Homo sapiens: one gene and its partner. The protein of the gene in region 1 interacts with the protein of each later gene in a pairwise test. Each region holds a gene or a part of one and is shown in the gene's direction. Other genes may lie near its edges.

The links. Proteins that work in one complex are often made in the same cells at the same time.
Region 2: the proteins of PTPN7 (region 1) and ROR2 interact in a two-hybrid assay, tested with the Homo sapiens proteins (one study listed by BioGRID and IntAct).

The regions. Positions count from the first base shown.
Region 1 is NC_000001.11:202,153,919-202,157,667, reverse strand, and holds part of PTPN7 (tyrosine-protein phosphatase non-receptor type 7), read left to right. Parts: intron 1-2,058; coding exon 2,059-2,135; intron 2,136-3,344; coding exon 3,345-3,482; intron 3,483-3,749. UniProt on the Homo sapiens protein: Protein phosphatase that acts preferentially on tyrosine-phosphorylated MAPK1. Plays a role in the regulation of T and B-lymphocyte development and signal transduction.
Region 2 is NC_000009.12:91,943,510-91,947,258, reverse strand, and holds part of ROR2 (tyrosine-protein kinase transmembrane receptor ROR2 isoform 1 precursor), read left to right. Parts: intron 1-3,749. UniProt on the Homo sapiens protein: Tyrosine-protein kinase receptor which may be involved in the early formation of the chondrocytes. It seems to be required for cartilage and growth plate development. Phosphorylates YWHAB, leading to induction of osteogenesis and bone formation.

The DNA.
Region 1 (3,749 bases):
ACACAGTTTCAGCCAGGGAAGATCAACCTTGCTTGGCACATCTTCTCTCAGCAGAGAAAGGGGGAAGAAGGAGCAAGAATCACAACAGCAGCAATAATAATGTTTGCAGATATGTACCCTGGGCCAGGCCCTGTTCTCAATCCTTTTTTTTTTTTTTAAGACGGAGTTTTCACTCTCGTCACCCAGGCTGGAGTGCAATGGCGCAATCTGGGCTCACTGCAACCTCCGCCTCCCGGGTTCAAGCGATTCTCCTGCCTCAGCCTCCCGAGTAGCTGGGATTACAGGCATGCGCCTCCATGCGTGGCTAATTTTGTATTTTTAGCAGAGGTGGGGTTTCTCCATGTTGGTCAGGCTGGTCTCGAACTCCCGACCTCAGGTGATCCGCCCACCTCGGCCTCCCAAAGTGCTGGGATTACAGGCGTAAGCCACCGCGTCCAGCCTCAATCCTTTATATTCACTCATTTCTCACAACAATCCCATGAAGTTGGTACTGTGATGACCATTTTACAAGTGAGGAAACTAAGGCACAGAGAAGTTGAATATCTTACCTAAGATATTCAACTTAGCTACTTGCACCAAGCCCCTTTCCCTGTCTTCCTCTTGCATGGGAAATGCCCAGCCAAGGCTTGCAGTGAAGGAAGCACCACCAGGAGGGCTCCCAGAGAGATGGCTTTGAGAAAGTCAGATGGAGACAGGGCAACGGCCAGCAAGAGAGCAGTGGAGGCGGGGAGGGAGGACACTGTGCTAGGAGGGGGTGACCCTGCAAACTGGCAGACCCGGAGCAAGCACCTTCTATTTTTCGGAGGCAGGCATGAGGCCCCGGAGCCTCTCCCTCCCTCCCCTGCTCTCCCTACAGGGAAGCTACTCCCAGCTTGAGGCTTTAGCTCAGTGAGCACTCGGGCCCTGTCTCCTGCTAACCCTCCTGGAGTGTCCTCTGCCTGCATGGGCGGATCAAGGTGCTATTAGCGCTATTCCAGGCCAGGGGGAGGAGTAGCCCTTGTTCTTGGCCTAATTCTAATCAGCCCTGCAGCCACCAGAAAAGGGAAAAATTCCTTTGCCTGAGATTCCCCTGGTCCCCAGGGTACCTTCTGTCCATGACCAGGCTGGCATGAGCAGAGCGAGAGTCTCTTCTCCTTTCCTCACAAGCCAGCTTCTTCATCCATGTTTGGGTTTCATTTAGAGAAATCCTTCCCCCTTAGAGGCAGAGGCCAAATGCCTCGTGGCTGAGCGGAATCTGAGTCCTAGTCCCACTTCACAGCTATGTGATATCTGGCAAGTTGCTCATGTGAATCCCATATTCACCATTAGAAAACAAATTCTTCTTCCTCTACATCTCTTTTTCCATCCCTAGTGGCATAATCTTGTTCTAAACCTGTACTGATCTCAAGGATAGAATACTGTATCTATTAGAATATTATATCTAATATTGTATCTTCCCATTTGGTCTCTGCTGTTCCGTTCCCTTTCTTCTCTAGTCCATCCTATACAGCACCACTCAGTTAATCTTCCCAAACTATTGTTTTGATCATGTCACTCTCCTGCTCAAAAACATTATACAGCTTCCTACTGTCTGCGTATAAAATACTTCAATAGGGGCCAGACATGGTGGCTCACACATGTAATCTCAGCACTTTGGGAGGTTGAGGTGGGAGAATTGCTTGAAGTCAGAAATTCAAGACCAGCTTGGGCAACAAAGTGAAACCCAATCTCTACAAAAAACGTAAATAAATAAATAAATAAGCAAGCCAGGTGTGGTGGCATTTGCCTATAGTCCCAGCTATGTCAAAGGCTGAGACAAAAGTATCACTTGAGCCCAAGAGTTAGAGGTTACAGTGAGCTATGATCGCACCACTGCACTCCAGCCTAGGCAACAGAATGAGACCCTGTCTCTAAAAACAACAACAAAAACAACAACTTCAGTGGGTGTAAGGCCACCTGCTATACACAAGGTGCTATGACTGTGATGAGCACAGGAACTCTCCTCTTTCTGACCCTGCTTGAGTCTGTGTTAGTTGGTCACCTTCTGACCTCTGACCTCTGCTGATTTTTATTTCCTAGATCCCCAGAGCCGTGTCTGTCTAGGCCGGGCACAGAGCCAGGAGGACGGAGATTACATCAATGCCAACTACATCCGAGTGAGTGGCCTGGCTGCAGTGGTGGGCGGGGAATGGGGGAATTCTCAGACGTCTGAGAATATCTTCCAGCCATGGCTGGTGGATCAGGTGCCTGCATTTCCTACCCTCCCTGCTCCAGCTCACTGCTGTCATAGCCCTACCAAGCTGGGCTGGTACTGAACATGCCCCAAAACACCAACCTAAAAAACGGAGCAGATGTTGAAAAATATCTGGAGAGACCACCAAGTCTCCCTAACCTCCACTATCAGTCCTCCCATGCCACCCTCTAAACTTAGCAGGAAGTTAGCATTGTTGAACCCAATCTCCAGCTGCTTAAGAGCTCACAGCTCCCGAGAACTGCATAGGTGATGCCAGCACTAATGGGACCTCCCCGCCAACTTACCTTAACTGCCCCTCAGATAGCCCCTCTTATATGAAGATGGTTGATTGACGTCAAGCTATAGGAAGCTCCAGGCCAGGTGGGTGTTCCACGCCAGCTTCTCGCTGCTGTGGGCCCTAAGGAGATGTAAAAGCAGCGCTCTCTAGTGACTCAATGTGGGTAAGACATCAGTCAGGGGCGCAGGGAGGCGAAAAGCTCTTAGCTAGGGAAGCCATGGGGAAACATGATCTTACATTTGCCGGCCAATACCGGATCAACTGCAGTCTGGATTTCACCATCTTGAGAAGCAGGAAGCTGAGGATCCTGAAGGTGAGAAAATCAGGTTAGGGAGAGTGTGCTACATTTTGCTACTACTTTCATAGAAAAGTAGTAACCTGTAAATGTGAAACTGTCACTGAACAAATATTAAACACTGTTTAGGTATTTTGTGCTAGAAGAAAGCAGCAGGGGAGGAAGGGAATAAACATTTATAGAGCACTTGCTATCGGCTAGACTCTCAATATATCTTACTGAATTTAATCCACTCTACATTCCTACAAGATAGATATTATTATGCCCAATTTACAGATGATACCACTGAGGCTTACGGAGGCTAGGTAACTGGCTTATAGTGGTACAGCCAGGAAACAGCAGAACAGGGATCTGATCCTCATTCCAGAACCCGTATCCTTTCCATCATGTGGCTTCTGAGTGTGCGTGTTCGTGCATGTGTACGTCTACACGTGTGGTTCACAGCTTCAGGCTGACCCCAGCACCTGAGGCATCTAGGATCTCCCCAGAGCTCTGCTCTCACTGCTCCCCACCCCTTCCCCTGTGCTTCCACCTTCCAGGGCTATGACGGGAAGGAGAAGGTCTACATTGCCACCCAGGGCCCCATGCCCAACACTGTGTCGGACTTCTGGGAGATGGTGTGGCAAGAGGAAGTGTCCCTCATTGTCATGCTCACTCAGCTCCGAGAGGGCAAGGAGGTAGGAGGCAGAGCCACAGTTCATGATGAACCCAGAAAGTGCTATGCCCACCCCACCCCCACCCCACACACAGGGCAGCTCAGAACCAGAGGTTTCCCTGGGAGCCAGCCCCAGCTCATACCTCTCAGAAAGTTCCCTGAGATATAGCCCTGGGAGGCTGTCTATGGCCAAAATACGGGATAGGGTGAGCACTCTGCTTGCAGGTATCAAGCTCAGAAGAGCCAGGCTCCCTGTTGCTGACCTCCCATCCAGTAGGGGTGGAGGATG
Region 2 (3,749 bases), on another chromosome or scaffold:
ACTTTTAATTAGTAAAGCAAATCATGGAAAACTGACAAGTCTGCTTTATATTTTATATGTAAAAAAGCAACATGGGTTTTTTAAAATGTGCGTTTTCCAGGGGTAGTTTTTGGTGACTGCTCTGCAGATTTTTAAGGCAATGTTAAACAACATTTTTATTTTTATTGTGAAACCTTTTTTTTATTGTTTATTCAAAGTGCTGCTGTAATTGGTGTTTGTATGTCTCTCTCTTAAGTGTGGTTTGCAGTGAATCACTTGTTGCCCCTTAAACAGTTAGCCTGGATTTAACCTCCAAGAGATTAAGTCTGGCAGAGTCTGAATTTTACACTGCTCTTTTCTTTGGAAGCTCTTCTGAAATCAGTGGAATAGAAATACAGGGGTACGAACAGCTCATCTGACAGGTAGGGAAGATTAATCCCCTTTAGAAAGGTTTCAGCTGGTGGACTGGCACTCCTTTAAAATGCATTCCCTGAGAGGCCAGGATGGGAAAAGTTATTAGTGAAATGGGAACTGGATGTGAAGGACTTGAGCTCCCTAATCTGCAGGACCTGGCTAGTCTGTTGTAGTGCTGGAAATTTGTGTACTCTTTGTAATCCTTTCCCTTGGAGAGTTCTAATTATATAATTCCACATTGTAGTCAGGGAAAAGAAAGTTAACGCTACAAACTGTTACTCCTTCCCAGGGTTTATAACCATCTTCTAAAATGGTTCCTTGATGACAGGCCTTTCCTTTTGGTGTTTATCTGGTTCATTCCCTGGGAACCTGGAGGGGACACTGTGAAGGACTCCCTCCTCCTCCTCTTCCACACCCCATCAGCGTCTTGTGGTTTCCACGTGGTGAAGGGCTGGGCAGCCCAATTTTGGGTTTACCTTGAGGTGCCTCCTTGGGGGCTCCTCGGGGCGGGCTCTTCCTTGCTCTTGCCCATTGGTTGTGACTCCATACATTGTCATTAGGATATTTCCTTTTTGGGAGCCCCGTGGTGACCACCAAGTGGAGAATACCAAGCATGTAAGGTTTCAAAGTAAAGAAACCAGGGGGCTTTGTTTTGCAGTGGAAGCATTGCTAGCTAGGTCTGGATTTTTATTGGTTGCACCCCAGCTGCATGGCCAATAGCAATTTCATGAAGGGACTGTTGGGTTGAAGGGACTGGCTTTGAAAACATTACTTCTCAGTGACCCTTTGGGCTCTTAGGTTCTGCTTTGCCCCACAACACCACCATAACACTGTTGAGGCTTTCAGTGGGTAGTGTGGGCTTCTTGAGTTTTGAAAGTAAAAATCCAAGCAACAAGAGGCGCTCCAGCCCATTAATTATAGCTGCAACTGGCCGGGGTTTTGTAGCAGCCGCCTTTTTCTAGCATGTATTTATTTGGTTTTGTTGAAGAGCTTGCCAAGTTGGAAACGAGGGCGGGACAGCTTTGCTTGCGTGTGCAGTTGTCATAAAATATGTCTGGGGTGTAATCTGTTTAAAATCATATTCGTAGAGTGGCCAAAGAATTGTTGAACAGTGTTGGGAATTTTCATAAAGCTTTTACAAAATAGGGAATTTTATTGGTGTGGTTGGCACTGTTTTTGGGATTTCTGTGGGTGTTTTCTTTTTAAGTCCTATCTCTGAAAAAAGCAAAAAACTCAAAAGCTAAAGGGAAGGAAATAATTACAGAAAAATGTAGCTTAATTCGACTAAGTAGCTTGGTCCTCTAGAAATCCTTAAGTTCTAGTGGGAAGTGGTGTGTATGTCTTTAATTGTCGCTGGAATGAGCTTCAGTAAGCACTCTGTCACTTTCTAGATGTTATCAGAGGAGAATGTGGCGGCTGCTTCAAGTCCTCCTGGAGTGGGGGAGGGTTCCCCTAAATCCCAAATACTCCTAGCCTAATGGTTTCCACACCCTCCTGGAGGGATAGTTAACACAATGGGCAGTTAAAATAAGGAAATGTTTAGGCCTGAACTCCTCATTGTAGGCTTGTGCTGTGGAATATAGTAGCCACCAGGCACACACAGCTATATAAGTTAAAATTAATTAAAATTAAAAGAAATTAAAGATTCACTTCCTCCCCTTCACTGGCTTCATTTCAGGTGTCAGTAGCCACAAATTGCTATGCAAAAATGTCACTGGGATTTTAGTAGAGGTTGCATTGAATTGGTAGATGGATCTGAGTAGTATTAACTTTTTTTTTTTTTTTTGAGTTAAGGTCTTGCTCTGTCACCCAGGCTGGAGTGCAGTGGTGCAAACACGGCTCACTACCTCTGGCCTTAACCTCCTGGGCTAAGCCTCTACCTCCTGGGCTCAAGTTATCCTCCCATCTTAGCCTCTGAAGTAGCTGGAACCACAGGCACGCGCTACCGTGCCTGGCTAATTCTTTGATTTTTTTTCGTAGAGATGGAGGTCCACTTGTGTTGCCCAGGCTGGTCTTGAACTCCTGGGCTGAAGGGATTCCCCACCCCCACCCCAGTCCTGGGATCGTAGGCATGAGCCACCTCACTGGCCATCATCTTAACAGTATTGTCTTCCTGTCCATAAACACAGGATGTCTTAACATTTATTTAGACCTTTCATTTCTTTCAGCAATGTTTTTTAGTTTTTAGTGTATGAGTCTTTTGCCTCTTAAGTTAAATCTATTCCTGAGTATTTTATTCTTTTCGAGCTGTTGTAATTGGAATTGTGTTTTTTAAATTTCCTTTTCACATTGCCCACTGTTAGTGCACAGAAATGTAACATTTTTGTGTGTTGATTTTCTAACCTGCAAGCTTGTGGAATTTGCTTATTAGCTCAAATAGCATTTTTGTAGCTCTTATTCTGTATGTAAAGTCGTATCATCTACAAATAGGCATAATTTTACTTCTTCCTTTACAATTTGGATGCCTTTTATTATTTTTGGTCTTGCCTAATTGCTCAGCCTGGAACTTCCAATACAGTCATGGGCCAAATAATGATGTTTTCAGACGATGGACCACCTATATGACAGTGGTCCCATAAGATAACACTACTGTATATGACTGTGCCTTTTATATGGTTAGATACACAAATGCTTCCCATCCTGTTACAGTTGCCTACAGTATTCAGTACAGCCACATGCTGTATAGGTTTGTTGTAGCCTAGGAGAAGTAGGCTACACCACATAGCCTAGGTGTGCAGTTTGTGTGAGGGACACTCTATGATGTTCATATGATGATGAAATTGCCCAGGGACACATTTCCCAGAATGTATCGTCATCGTTGAGCAACGCATGACTGTACTGTGTTGAATAGAAGAGGTGAAAATGGGCATTCTTGTCTTGTTCCTGATCTTGGAGGAAAAGCTTTCAGTCTTTTAACATTGAGTGTGATGTTTGCTGGGCTTGTCGTATATGGCTTTTACTATGTTGAGGTGGTTTCCTTTCTATTAGTTTATTCTCATTTTTTGGTATATTTTTGACTTTTAGAACATGCTAACATTCTACAAGTTCAAAAAATAAATCACTAAGAATAGCAGGAAACTAGAATTGAATACAAAGAAGCACATAAATGCAAATGTGTTGCAAATGAGTAACATGACTACACAGATGGGGGAAAAGAAACCGTAATGTTGGACTCAGTGCTTTGACGGTGTATCCTCAGCCTACAGGAGAAACAACAACCTGAAAGCAAAACTGGCACCCTTCTTAGTAGGTTTGATTTTCATAGTGGTGTGGGTATATCCATTCTGAAATGACTTTGTGTGAATTGTGAGATTAGACAGATAAGAAGTGTGTTAATAGTGTTGTAGCCAGGGTGC